2 linked regions of the Homo sapiens genome follow. Each later gene encodes a partner of the first gene's protein in a complex. Each region holds a gene or a part of one and is shown on either strand. Other genes may lie near its edges.

Evidence for each region. The genes of interacting proteins can lie anywhere in the genome.
Region 2: the proteins of PTN (region 1) and ITGAM are in contact, whole or in part, in an NMR structure (PDB 8VOH), measured with the Homo sapiens proteins. Residues at the interface, in NP_001308315.1 of Homo sapiens: Val56, Pro57, Thr58, Ser59, Asp61, Cys62, Gly63, Leu64, Thr66, Glu68, Thr79, Lys81, Thr82, Gln83, Arg84; in NP_000623.2 of Homo sapiens: Pro273, Asp276, Arg277, Gly279, Val280, Ile281, Arg282, Tyr283, Lys306, Pro307, Arg309, Asp310, His311, Ala334, Ile335, Glu336, Gly337, Thr338, Gln339.

The regions. Positions count from the first base shown.
Region 1 is NC_000007.14:137,228,720-137,235,740, forward strand, and holds part of PTN (pleiotrophin isoform 1 precursor), read right to left. Parts: intron 1-7,021.
Region 2 is NC_000016.10:31,255,287-31,262,976, reverse strand, and holds the start of ITGAM (integrin alpha-M isoform 2 precursor), read right to left. Parts: upstream 3,003-7,690; 5' UTR 2,913-3,002; coding exon 2,885-2,912; intron 1,286-2,884; coding exon 1,180-1,285; intron 1-1,179.

The sequences.
Region 1 (7,021 bases):
AAGTAAAACATTGAGGATTTCAATCAAAAGACTCCATTCTTTTCCATTCAACCATCTTTCCACTTCTCTTTTCCTAACAGGAGAATGCAATGTAGAATAGAACACATCTAATTTGGCTCCAAAGACAAAAATGGTCAGAATCACTGGGTTAGCAAGTGAGGGGATATTGCTAAATATTTCTGAGCCACTTCTCCAATTTGGTCCATAGTAGTGGCAGAAATATACTGGTTAAGTACAGGCTCTGGAGTCAGACTGCTGAAGTTTAAATCCTGGCCACATCATTAAGTTACTGTGAGACACTGAGAAAGTTACTTAATGTATTTGTTTCTTAGATTACTCATCTTTAAATAGGCATATGAAAAGTACCATAGCATATGATAGTAAGCATACGGTTTATATCCAAATTAAACCTGTTCTATAAAATCTACTGAGAACAGAACATGATACAATAGCATGTGCTCAATTAAGGTTAGCATTTATCATTAGGGTGATAATAGAGCAAGAACAAGAGATCATTACCCTGTATAATTAAAATCCTTAATCATTATCAAGGCATATTGATTGAGCAGGTCAATGAATGTGCTAAGCAACATAGGGTCACTGGGACAAAAACAATGACCAACAGGGATGAGGTCATTGTTCACTGGAGCATACAGCCTGTGTCCAAGAGGACCATAAGACTTATGAAGACAGAAGATATGATATGATGCCAACTAGAAATATTGTATATTTCTCAGCTCATACTTAAGTAGAGCTGGAAACTTTTCCATTTCTATATACTATCTTCATGACCTCTTCAAGTAGGTTCCAAAGTCCATTACACACTAGTAGTATTTCTGTTCAATGTAATTGTCCTAATCTTCCTTTACTCAAACTTCAAGGGTACACTATATGCAAGTGGGTCAGCAGTTTCTAAACCCAGGCTAAATTGTTGTCCATAATTGTATTCATTCCATTCATGACTTCCCAAGTTTGCCCCATTTCTATACTAAAGAAATTTAACTTTTCACGCTCTCTATTTTTGTTTGTTTTCTCAAATATCTTTCTTTCACCCTATGAGAGGTGTAATGACCAGAATTTCCAAGTGAAAGATACATTTTAGATCAAAGGAGACATTATGTGTAATTTCCGAAAAATTATTCAGTGTCTGAAAATGTAATAATTCCCAATTTTTGGTCAACATTTTAGGCAACAGCTGTATATTAGGATGGTATCTTCAGAGAACAATGTAGGATTTCAACTGAGACCTAACTCTGGTTTTCCCTCTCTCAGTTTCCTCATGTCCCTTCCTGGAAAACCCTCAGGAACTTGTTATCTTCTAGGTCTCCAGTAGAGTGGATATCTAAGTAGCAATTTTCATATTTTGGCTAACATGTTCCTATTTCATACATAAGTCTGAGCAGATGACATACTAACCAGGTTTTTGTATAAAAGTTTCATAAAACTTAAAATTATTCTGAACATTGGACACTATTTGATCTGTTAATGTAAGGTTGTCCATTTCAAAGAACACTTTGGGAATAGGAATCTGTCACCAAATTCTTCTTGGTAAAGGCAAGAGCACATTCTTAGGTAACCCTGAACCTGACATTGGTGTCTTATTCCTTAATTGACAACTTGCTAAATACCAGGAAATCAACAATTTGCTTATTAAATCTGTACAATGTCAATCAACTTATTCTTCTGACACAAGTGGCAAGTAATCATGGTACTGTCCGGACACCCTGCAGAACTTGAGTCTACTCTGGGCTCAATCTAAAGAGAAAAATAAAGAGTCTTCAGTAAAAAGTAGTGGAAGGAGGGAAGAATTCATATTTGCAATAAGGTCAGTTTAGTTTTTTACATAACAAAGTGTTCAAATTTTTGTGAAAAAAAATCAGGTCAGTAATATTGCTTCCAATCGAAAGCAGTTTTTTGTGACTTTTATGTACATTCAACTGAAAGACTAAATGAGCTTTGTCACTGCTTATCTCTGTGGCCTCAAAAACTTATTAACAACCTCTCAATCTTTACCTAGTATACATGATGGGTTTAAAATAGTATCACAAAATCTATGACCTAGAAAGAACGTGGTCCAACGCCCTTACGTAATAGATGAAGAAACTGAAACATTCACATTGCCCCTCTTTACTTCCATCTTCATACTTATGCTTATTTTAGTTCCCCAAATACATCTTTTCTCTTTGTCTGTTTTTCTCTCTAGTCTCTGGCCTTCAAATTCACTCTTCATTTCATCAACCCCACACTTCCACTACGACATGTCTCATTAATGCCTCCCATCCTTCAGGTACCAGCATTGACATCACTTCTAGTTTGCTGACCTCGCAGTGTGAGTTAGAAGTTGTTTCTCTTTCCTGCTCTTGTTAGAGCACCTATCTCTAGCATTGTAACTGCCACCAAAATACAAGCTGCGAGAGGGTGCAGTTTCTACTCTCTGTTGTACCTCCAACCCATGGCACAGGGCCTTGTGTGTAAAAGCTGATTAGTAAAGCTTTAGTGAAAATAAATGGATCCATAACATGGTGATAATATGTCTCACCCATCTTCCTTATGACGGTTCTTTGACTTTTCTTTGCTTCTTTCCATCTTATCCTTTTCATATTATTTCCTCTTGGCCTGAGTGTTCCTTCTCCTACTACCCCAATTTGCACAGTCAGCACCTAGTCATCCTTAAAATCTTAGCCTCAACTGCATTTTCTCAGGGAAGCCCTCCAAGAGCTCTCAGATAAGCAGATTCCGTGCACAGACACTCTCATTGTGCCTCCCATTGATTTTTCCAAAACTAGAATTGAACTATTAATTTTGTCTCTAATTATTTGGTATGTGTTTTTCCTTTCCTATGACAATAGAGACCCTATCTGTATGTTGCAACTGTATATTCTGTGCCTGAGATATAACAAGCATTCATGAAATACTTGTTGCATGCGGAGTGGATAAATGAATACTTGAATGGGAAATAGTTCAACCCATTACTATATAGAAAAGAGTATTTCTCAAGGAAAGTAAGGAGTGTAAATCCAATTAGAATCTTGTCAAATTTCAGTCTATCTTTAAAGACAAATATTTTATGAAGAAGAAAACTTACAAACATACGTATATGAAATTTATCCAGGTTTCTTAAAACTTTGTCTTTAGAATAGAGACCTGATTAAACTCTGTGGGTAAAACTGTCCCAGTTTAGTCGCCTTTCAAGGTTAGAGAGAAATGTTTACTATGAGATGTGGGTCACAAATTAGCCTGGAGCAGGGCTATAATTAGTTAAAGCCAAGTGCTTTTTTATTGAAGTCATATAGCGGCTACTCTAGAAGGTTCTGAGAGCCAATAGGATTCCTACCCTGATGTGAACAGTAGGGCACTTTAGTTCACATTGAACAGAGCCAAATCAAGAGAAGGAAGTACACATACACCACACATCAAATAACACCCCGGGCCACATGTCCCTTGTCCCTGCCTGGATTGAGGCTGCAAAGCAGAAATGGATATAAACAGAGAATGAGCCATTGTCAACATGTGAAAGTAAAGGGCACCTGCCTGAAAGGTGACTTGTTCTGTTCCTACCAGGACATCACTGCACTGGAATCTCACAGCAGTGCCCTGGGTAGATTTTAACTTCCTGGGTTTTCAAACTTTCATCCTTTCTTTGGCCAGTTTTTGAGTTGATAGAGGCTAGTACTCATAATAATTGGGATACAGAGATGAGAAAAAATAGTAGGTGTGTATTTTTGTAACTTTGTGGGGGGTTTTTAAATACAAATACATTGTTTTAAGATACGTTTGAAAGTGTTCAGAAAGTCCTAAGGCTTTACTAAGAAAAAGTACTCTAGAAAGGATTCAGGCTTCTTACATTGCTATGAATCATAGGATCCAAAGGGCCATGTTCACCATATTCAATCTAGAAAACTCAGAATTTATCCAAGGAAATTCTTTGAATGCATAACAACTCCTGATAAGAAAGAAGACAGGCAGTGATATGGTTTGACTCTGTGTCCCCACCCAAATCTCACCTTGAATTGTAATCCCCATAATCCCCATGTGTCAAGGGCAGGACCAGATGGAGGTAATTGGATCATGGCGGCAGTTTCCCCCATGCTATTCTGTGATAGTGAGTGAGTCTTATGAGAGTTGATGGTTTTATAAGTGTCTGGCATCTCCCCTGCTTGCATTCATTCTCTTTCCTGCCACCCTGTGAAGAGGTGCCTTCCGCCATGATTGTATGTTTCCTGAGGTCTCCCCAGCTATGTGGAACTGTGAGGGAATTAAACCTCTTTTCTTTATAGATTACCCAGTTCTGGGTATTTCTTCATAGCAGCACGAGAATGGGCTAATACAGTAAATGCAGTGAGAAGAATGAGTAGAAATTAATATGAGCCGTGTTACAATTCTGAGCCCATGTGTTTTTTTCTATGCTGAATAGAAAACAAAATCTTGATAAATGCTAACGTATTAAGTGACACCATGGCCTTTAGGTACGGTGAGACAATGAAAAAATCATGAAGTTTTGTTAGAATCATACTAAGAACTAAGCCCTAATCTAGAGAATTGGTTCAAATAGATGTTTGCCACTTACCAGCTCTGTGATCTTGTGCAGATCAATCATTCTGCCTCTGTTTCCTATAAACTGGGGATAATAAAACCTATATCCTCCTCAGAGGGCCAGTGTTAGTATCATGTGAGATTATGTCCTCTGCAATCTCATCTTACCACTAATGTTCAAAACACATTAATTTATTGATTCAGCAAATATGCACTCCATCTCCACTGTTTTAGACGCTAGGGTATAAAGGTGAACAAGACAAAACTCTGCCTTCACACAGCTGACATTACAAACAACACTTTCAAGGTGGCTTTATGGGAGAGTCTTTCAAAATTGTAAAGTGCTTTAAAGTACATATTTATATTAAAGATCATGGGTATGTGGCAGCTATTTTTATGGTTTTGAGACCTGGTTTTCTTGTTGCTAATTTACTACTACAATCCAGAGACATGTGTTGTGAAAAATAGAGCAGCCACAAGGAGAATGAATTACTAGAAAGAAAGAGTATACCTACAGTAGATTTACCCTGAAGGAAAAGGAGGGTTTCTCCTCTTGGGGTTATTTCATTCTTCTTAAAAAATATTAATTACTTGTCTCATTTAAAAAGTATTACAGACTCATATAAAAACCAAAGAAACACACACACACACACACACATACATATATGTATATATGTATACATATATATGTATATGTACACGTATACATATACATATATATGTATATATATACACACACACATACATAGAGAGAGAGAGATTACTCATAACTTCACAATGTAGAAACAACACTTTTAACGAGTTCTATTTATGTTTTCTTTCTATGACTTTACTTAGGAATATATTGACAGTTGATATAGTATTTTATGCTAAAAATTCAATTGTATCTATTTTCCATGTCATTGCATATACTTTGAAATGTGACCAAGTAATATTCCTTTATATTATCCTACTCCATATATTTTGTAACCTTTCATCTTTTGTACATCAGTTGGATAGTTCTGACCTCTTGTTATTATAAATAATGATGCAATGCTGATTTTGTTCACAAATCATCGAATGCTTAAATTTTGCCTTAGTATAGATTATTAGAAAAGGATGTACTGGATCCAAGGGCAGGACATTTTAAAAACTCCAGATATGTGTCGGGAAATTTATTTTTTGAAAGGAAGTAGTAATTTAAATTCTTATCAGCAATTTATATGAGTCTATCACAGCAAAGTTACTCTTGAAAGGCAAATAATCAGACAACAAGCATCATCTGTTTTCTATCTTTTCACAAGCCTTTTGGAAATAGAATTGCCATGTAGTTGGTATAAGTAAACATCAACTCCCCACTTTCAATATTAAGAAAATCTGGGAGAAATCAGATTGGAAGTGGGCCTTAAGAGAAAGACATCTGTTTAAAGATTGTTCAAAGACCTTAAGGGGACATGTTTTTCAAGAAGTGAGAAAGTTGAGAATTCTGAAATAAGCTTATCTCATTTTCTCAGTAAAAGGTCTTGCTTTGATTACTTATTTTCAGATGGCCTGCTGTGTATACAGAAAAACTAAAAAGGAAATTAGGAGATGAAATGATTTCAGATTGAGGGGAGCCCAGATTTTAACTAAAGTGACTCAGGCCCTGTTCGCTGCTGACTTAAATAAAGTGTCTTTGGGTTATTAAAGCAGTGGGAGGAAGTATTGATTAGAATAGAAATACAAAATGTGCACCTTCTAAGAGATAGAATTCATTTTAGCTAAAAGAAGCTAAAATCATTCAGAAATGCACATTGCAGAGGTCAAGAGAGACAGCTGAAAAGGAACAGTTGGAGGCATACCATCAAGACCACTGAAAGTTCACTTTTGGAGACTTGTTCAATAAATCACAAGGACTTATCACAGAAAAAGGATCATATCCCTGTCAAACAGTACCATCGCAACGTAAATATGTTCAAAAGCCTGCATATCACCAAGATCCTTTTAATGCTTTGTGAACCGATTTAAAGTAACTCACCTGTGCTTAAGAATTAACTGCCTAGTCATCTAGAACTACCTAATCCCTCGCCCCACGTCAGCTATGCCTCAGAACTGATAACAAGGCTTGTCGAATTGTGAACATACAGCTCAGTGATTCAGGAACTAAAATCCAGGTACTGGTTGGCTAGGCTGCCTAACGTGGCACTGTTCATTCAATTTCCAAATATTTCAGTTTAAATGAGTAGCATAAATTAAGTGGCAAAATACAGAAACATATTTCTGTTAAAAATCAAAAGTATCATCTTTTAAACATTTGCTTAATGTGTTATTCACAGATGTAGTTCAGTCCAATGCCTATGCAATAATTTTGTTGTTTCTTCTTTGATTTCCTATTTTGTAGCATCAATTGTTTCATTTCCTCTTTTATGGACTCAATGCATTTACTTCTACGATATGTGTGGAAAACATGTGTACATGCATACTGCCCCTCAGTGCTACCCACATGCTGATACTTTGCTTCATCCACACC
Region 2 (7,690 bases), on another chromosome or scaffold:
GAGGGAGTCTCTAAAAAAATAAAATAAAATAAATTATAGCATCTCCCAATTATGGCATGCAATGCAAGCATAACATGGGATTAATGGACTCAAATCACTGGGCTGTATTATGGGAGATAAAGCAAAGAGCAGAGACCAGCCCCCTTCTTCTGGAAAGGTACTATCACCTCCACAATTACTGTTTCTGTAAAGGTAAATGTTTTAGGCTTCAGGGTCCATACAATCTCTATCACAGCTCCTGAATTCTGCCATTACAGCTCAAAAGTGGCCATAGCCAGGCACAGTGGTTTACACCTATCATCCCAGCAAGTTGGGAGGCCCAAGCAAGAGGATGACTTGAGGCCAGGAGTTTGAGACCAGATTGGGCAACAGAGTGAGACCTCGTCTATACAAAAAAAATCAAAAAATTAGCCAGGTGTGGTGGCACATGCCTGTAGTCCCAGCTACTCAGGAGGCTAAGGTGGGAGGATTGCTTGAGCCCAGGAGTTTGAGTCTACAGTGAGCTATGATTTCACCTGTGCACTCCAGGCTGAATGACAGAACAAGACCATGTCAGAAAGGAAAGAAAGAAATGAAGGAAGGAAGGAAGGAAGGAAGGAAGGAAGGAAGGAAGGAAGGAAGGAAGGAAGGAAGGAAGGATGGAAGGGAGGGAAGGGAGGGAAGGAGGGAAAGAGGGAAGCAGGGAATGAGAGAGGGAGGAAGGAAGGAAGGAAAGAAGGAAGGAAGGAAGGAAGGGAGGAAGGGAGGGAAGGGCAATAAACAGTAAGAGACAAGTGGACGGAGTTGTTTTCAATAAAATTCATTCACAAAAATAGGCGGCAGCCTGCAGGCAGGCCTTAATTTCAGTACAATGTATACTACACATGGTGTGTTGGCTGAGGGAGGGAACGTGTATGTGTTATGCACACACAGAGTCTCCCCGAAGGAACACCCAGGAAACCATTTGTGAGGTCCCTCCTGGGAAGGGAACTAGGGGAAGGGAGTAAGGAAGAGATTTTTACTCTTACACCCTTTTGCATCTTTTGAATTTAGAATACTGTAAATTCAAAAGATGAATTTGTTGTATATTTTGAATTGATTTATCTGTTGAAAAAGATCACTCAAATCGCTGATTTTTTTCAGGTATGTAAGTCTTGGAGAGAAAGCACTGAGAAAGGGGGCTCCATCTAAGGGTCTCACCTGGATCCCTGAAGCTGGACCACGCTCTGCCCGAAGCCCCTTGCGTTCTCTTGGAAGGTCATTGCGTTTTCAGTGTCCAAGTTGAACCCATGACATAAGGTCAAGGCTAAAGGGAGAATGGGGGAAGGATCAAGCAGAGGAAAGTAGCATGCCAGTTAGGGGCTGTAGTCCTAGCACTTTGGAGGGCTGAGGCAGGAGGATCACTTGAGCCCTGATTGTGCCACTGCACTCCAGCCTGAGCAACAGAGAGAGATCCTATCTCAAAATTAAATACAAAAAAAAAACAAAAACTAATAATAATTTAAAAGAAAGCAATGGCTGGGTGTGGTGGCTCAGGCCTGTTATCCCAATAATTTAAGAGGCTGACGTGGGAGGATCACCTGGGCTCAGGAGTTTAAGACCAGCCTAGGCAACACAGTGAGACCCCATCTCTACAAAAAATAAAAAATTAGCCGGGTGTAGTGGTACTCAGGAGGCTGAGGTGGGAGGATTGCTTGAACCCAGGAGGTCAAGGCTGCAGTGAACCATGATCATGCCACTGCACTACAGCCTGGGCAACAGAGAAAGACCCTGTATCAAAAAAAAAAAAAAAAAAAAAAGATAGCAGCATGTCTTCCTGCTCCATTCCCTTTCCCATCCATTCGGTCACCCTAACTAACCCAGCATCCAGATGTCTGCCTCCCAGGTCCAGCTCTGTTAGCCTGGGGCGGGGATTAGCACACTTATTCTGTAAACAGCCAGATAGTAAATTTTAGGTTTTGCAGACCAAGAGGCTGATAGAATATGTTGTACAAGTACTTATATAACAAGACAGAAAATACTTTTCCACAAATTTGTCATTAGGGAAATTTCAAACATAATGATTGAGTACAATTTGTTTGTAATACGGGTTTACAAATGAGACAAATAGAATTCTTTGGGGGTGGTGCTCCCTATCATCAAATCGATTATCAGTGTTCATCTTCAATCTCTAGCTGGCAGGTTGTGCAAAAACAGGTCGTGGGCCATATCGGGCCCCCAGGCCACTGTTTGCTGACTCCTGACCTAAGAACCACCGTCGTGGGGCACGTCCAGTCCTGCTCTGAATTCCAGCCTCCCTTCTGAGCACCTAAATGGCTTCTTCCCCCGGTGTCACAACGATGATTTGCCCAACAGTGAAGTTTCTATACATTCTTAATTAGATAATTTCCTTCCTATGCAGCTCTCAAGTATTTCCTTCCCTTTTGAGGAGAATTTCATTTTCCACAACATATAAGCATAAAAGGTAACAAACTCAAATCATTTTCATTCATCAGTCATTCAACAAACATTTGCACCCGGGACCTTGGAAAATAGAACCGGAGGCAAAGTGGAGATGGTGAGAGGGGATCCAGGAGGAAGCACTCAGGAAAGGGGTCTCACACCTGCTGCGCACCCTGAGCCATGTCACTTCTCCTCCCTGGGCCTCCGTCTCCTCATGTGTGAAGCAAGGGGACCGGCAAGCAGCCTTGCACAGTCCATGAATGTGGTCATTCATCCAGGCTTCCCTGGCCAGCCTGTCTGGGTCTAGCTGTTCTCCCTGCTTCTTCTTGAACCCTTTCTCCTTCCCCAAATCCCCTTTGCCTCTCCCCAGACTGACTCCTACATATTCTGGGCCCTCTATTTATGACAGACCCAAAAGTTACCCTCCTCCCCACCCAGAGTCCCCCACCCCACCCCCATGCACCTGTTAACAGAAGGACTCTGAGAGCCATGGCTGGAAGGAGCCAGAACCTGGAAGGAGGTGAACCAGGGGTTGCAGGCACCACTGAGGAACCACAAGGAAGCCACCAAAGCAAAGAAGGGCAGAAAAGGAGAAGTAGGAGGCAGAAGTCTATCAGAGATTCAAAGGAAGAGGGCGGAGGCTCAGTGAGCACATAGCCCTGCCTGGTCTTCCGCCCAGGACTGCCCACAGCCTGCCCACCCTTCCTCCCCAGCTTCCTGACCCAAACTTTCAAAGTCAATACCACTATCCAAAAGGTGCCATTTGTCACCCACTTGTTTCTTGGGTTGGCCCAAGCATATGAACAAGCTGAACAGACTTAGCCTGCCTCCTGGAATTCGTGTTCTAAACATTAATACGGGCCAGGCGCAGTGGCTCACGCCTGTAATGCCAGCACTTTGGGAGGCCAAGGCAGGAGGATTGCTTGAGCCTGGGAGTTTGAAACCAGCCTGGGCAACATAGAGAGACCCTGTCTCTACAAAAAAATATTTTTAATTAGCTGGGCATGGTGGTGCGCGCCTGTAGCCCCTGCTACTGGACAGGCTGAGGTGTGAGAATTACTTGAGCCCGAGGTCCAGGCTGCAGTGAGCTAGGATCACACCACTGCACTCCAGCCTGGGCAACATAGGGAGACCCCGACTCTACAAAAAAATACATTTAAAAAATTAGCCAGGCATGGTGGCACATGCCTGTAGTCCTAGCTACTCCAGAGGCTGAGGCAGGAGGATTGTTTGAGCTCAGGAGTCTGAGACTGCAATGAGCCTCAATAATGCCACTGCACTCCAGCCCAGGTGACAGAGTGAGACTCTGTCTCAAAAAAAAAATTAAATAAATAAATAAGCAAACATTAATACAGATCAAACAAGTGTAGGAGGTAAAACTCTGTGTCTTCCTGAAAACACACTTTGCAAAATGTCCCTCCTTCAGCCCATGGAAATGGAAGCGCCCTTCAGCCAGAGCTGTCCTCATTTGTAGCCATCAACAAAGACAACTCAAGTACAGGCATACCTGGTGCTTTTTAAATATTATTTTGTGCTTTTTTTAGAGACAGAGTCTAGCTCTGTTGCCCAGGCTGGAGTGCAGTGGTGTAATCACAGCTCACTGCAGCTTCAATCAACCTCCTGGGCTCAAGCGATCCTCCTACCTCAGCCTTCCGAGTAGCTGGTACTACAGGCACATGCTGCCATGGCCAGCTAATTTTTTTTAAATTTTTTGTAGAGACAAGATCTTGCTATGTTGTTCAGGCTATTCTCAACCTCCTGGACTCAAGTGATCCTCCTTCCTCAGCCTCCCAAACTGCTGAGATTACAGGTGTGAGCCACTGCATCCAGCCTATTTTTGTGTGTGTGTGTGTGTGTGTGTGTAAAGGCCTCAAGCTCTTCACCCAAGAATTTTCACTTCTAGTAATTTATCCTAAGAATAGTTAAGAAGTGTAGTCAAAAATATATGTACAAACTTGGCTGGGTGCGGTGGCTCATGCCTGTAATCCTAGCATTTTGGGAGGCTGAGGCGGGGTGGCTCACTTGAGGTCAGCAATTGAAACCAGCCTGCCCAACATGGTGAAACCTCATCTTTACTAAAAAGACAAAAAAATTAGCCAGGCGTGGTGGCAGGCACCTGTAATCCCACCTGGGAGGCTGAGGCAGCAGAATCACTTGAACCCTGGAGGCGGAGGTTGCAGTGAGCAGAGATTGTGCCACTGCACTCCAGCCTAGGCGACAGAGCAAGACTCTTATCTCTAAAAAAAAAAAAATATATATATATATATATATTTGCAAGCTTGTTCATTGCAGCATTATTGTTAATATGAAAAGCTAAAAAAACCTGAATATTCAACAGAGGAATGGTTCAATGATACTTCACTCTGTGATATATCCTTACCCTCCCCTGTGTCTGTCACTTTTAATTCTGTTTTCAAAGGCACAGGAAAATAGGTATCCTTCCACACATACATGGAACACAAACCTCACCTTTATGTGACCGCCAATGTGATTCTCAAGCCAATGATTTTTTTCACTCTTTCTCAACACATTTTCTTTTTTTTTTTTTTTTTTTTTTTGTGAAACGGAGTCTCCCTCTGTCGCCCAGGCTGGAGTGCAGTGGCGTGATCTCAGCTCACTGCAACCTCTGCCTCCCGAGTTCAAGTGATTCTCCTGCCTCAGCCTCCCGAGTAGCTGAGAATACAGGTGCTTGCCACCACGCCTGGCTAATTTTTTGTATTTTCAGTAGAGACAGGGTTTCACCATTCAACACATTTTCTTTTGCCTCTAGTTCTACTTTCCCGATAACTAGATGGAAAAAAATGCTTGCTGGCTGAAAAAAAAAAAAGCAATTAAAATTATGTACATTTGGTTAAAAATTATCTGTTTATAATTTTTATATATAGCCAGGTGTGGTGACTCCTGCTTGTAATCTCAGCACATTGGGAGGCCAAGGCAGAGGGATCATTTGAGCTCAGGAACTCAAGACCAGCCTGGGCAACACAGCAAGACCCTGACTCTACAAAAAAATGTTTAAAAATTAGCTGGGCATAGTGATGCACACCTGTGGTCCCAGCTACTCAACAGGCTGAGGTGGGAGGATCGCTTGAGCCAAGGAGGTTGAGGCTGCAGTGAGATATGATTGCACCACTGCACTCCAGCCTGGAAAACAGAGCCAGACCCTGTCTCTAAAATATATATAGGCAGGGCATGTAATATATACAGGCACGCCTGTAATCCCAGCACTTCGGGAGGCTGAGGTGGGAGGATCACCTGAGATTAGGAGTTCAAGACCAGCCTGGCCAACATGGTGAAACCCCATCTCTACTAAAAATACAACAATTAGCCAGGCGTGGTGGCAGGCACCTGTAATCCTAGTTACTTGGGAGGCTGAGGCAGGAGAATCACTTGAACCTGGGAGGTGGAGGTTGCAGTGAGCTGAGATTGCACCATTGCACTCCAGCCTGGGCAATAGAGCTTGACTCAGTTTCAAAAAATAAAAAATTAAAATTAAATAAATAAGTACATACATACAAAAATAAATCATATATATATATATATATATATATATATATATATATATATATATATGCAGGAAAACCAAATGTTAATAGTCGTTATCTCCAAGATAGGAGGATTACAGGTATGTTCCAGTATCTATTGCTGCAGAGCGAGCTACTCCAAAACTTCATAGTTAAAAACAGCAGCATATTATAATCTCTCGCGTATCTGTGAATCTCCTGGCCTCAGCAGTTCTCAGCGGGGTCTCTCACATGATTGCAGTCGGATCACAACCAGGGCTAGAGTAATCCAAAGCTCAGTTGGGCTGGGCTCCCAAAATGGGTCACTCCCACAGCTGGCAGTTGGCCGTGGGCTAGGAGCTCAGTTGGGGCTGTCACCTGGGCACCCCCACGTGCCCTCTCCATGTGGCTTGGGCTTCTCGCAGCATGGTGGCTGGACTTCAAGAGCAAGTGTTCCAACAGACAGGAAGCAGAAATTTCCAGGCTACTAAGGTCTTGATCTGGAAACTGGCGCCAAGTCATCTGCACCACATTCCATTGATCAGGCAGTCACAGAGCTCATCCACATTCAAGCAAAGGGGACACAGATCCCACCTCCCAATGGGAGGAATTTGTGGTTGTATTCAATCTGCTACAAGATGACTTTAATATTCTTTTCTATATCATTTGTACTTAAAATATTTATATAGGCTGGGTGCAGTGGCTCATGCCTGTGATCCCAATGCTGTGGGAGGCCAAGGCAAGAGGATCACTTGAGCCCAGGAGTTTGAGGCTACAGTGAGCTATGACCTCAACACTGCACTCCAGCCTGGGCAACAGAGCAAGACCATGTCTCAAAGAGAAAAAAAAAAAAGACCTTTATACAAAAAAAAGACTCATAATCATAAAAAATACCAATAGATAATTTAAAACAACAGGTTACCTGTATTTGTTAGCAGGTAAAGAAGCTGAGGAAAGGACGAACGAAGTCATGAGCCCAAGATGAGAAGATACCAACCAGGGTGCCCGGGGAGGAGTTTAGTAGATCAGCTGGGTTTGCTTTGGGAAAAGTTTTCACACTCTGGCCACTATGGGGGCTGCTCGAACTCAGACGTGGAGGCCCCTCCTTGCCCTGAACAGTGGCCAAGGGTCCACTCTCTGTAAAAACATAGGCAAGATCTCAGACTGGCTGTCCAACCTGCAGAGGCTTTCTCAATGAGCCACCACCAAGTGTGCACCTGACCTGGTGACCGTGGGTGGGGACATATCTATAAGCTGTTGGCTGTTCCCTCCTACCTGTCCCCCATCCCCACTCTTGATAAAATCTTAGCTTGATTTCCCCTATAAGTGGACTCTGAGACAAGGCTTCAAGTGTAAGTAATTTATCTGGAAGGTGATTCCGGAAACACTGGTGGGAAAGTGAGGAAAAGAAGGAGCTAATGCCAGGCACAATGGCTCACTGCCTGTAATACCAGCACTTTGGGAGTCCAGAGTGGGAGGATCGCTTGAGCCCAGGAGTTCAAGACCAACCTGGGCAACATAGGAAGATTCTGTCTCTTAAAAAAAATTTTTTTTTAATTATCTAGTGTGGTGGTATGCACATGTAGTCCCAGCTACTCAGGAAGCTGAGGCAGGAGGATCACTTGCACCCAAGGGGTCGAGGTTGCAGTGAGCTATGATCATGCCACCATACACTGTACTCTAGCCTGGGCAACATAATAAGACCCCGTCTCTTAAATTTTTTTAATTAAATAAATAATTAATTAATTAAACATTAATATGTATCAAAC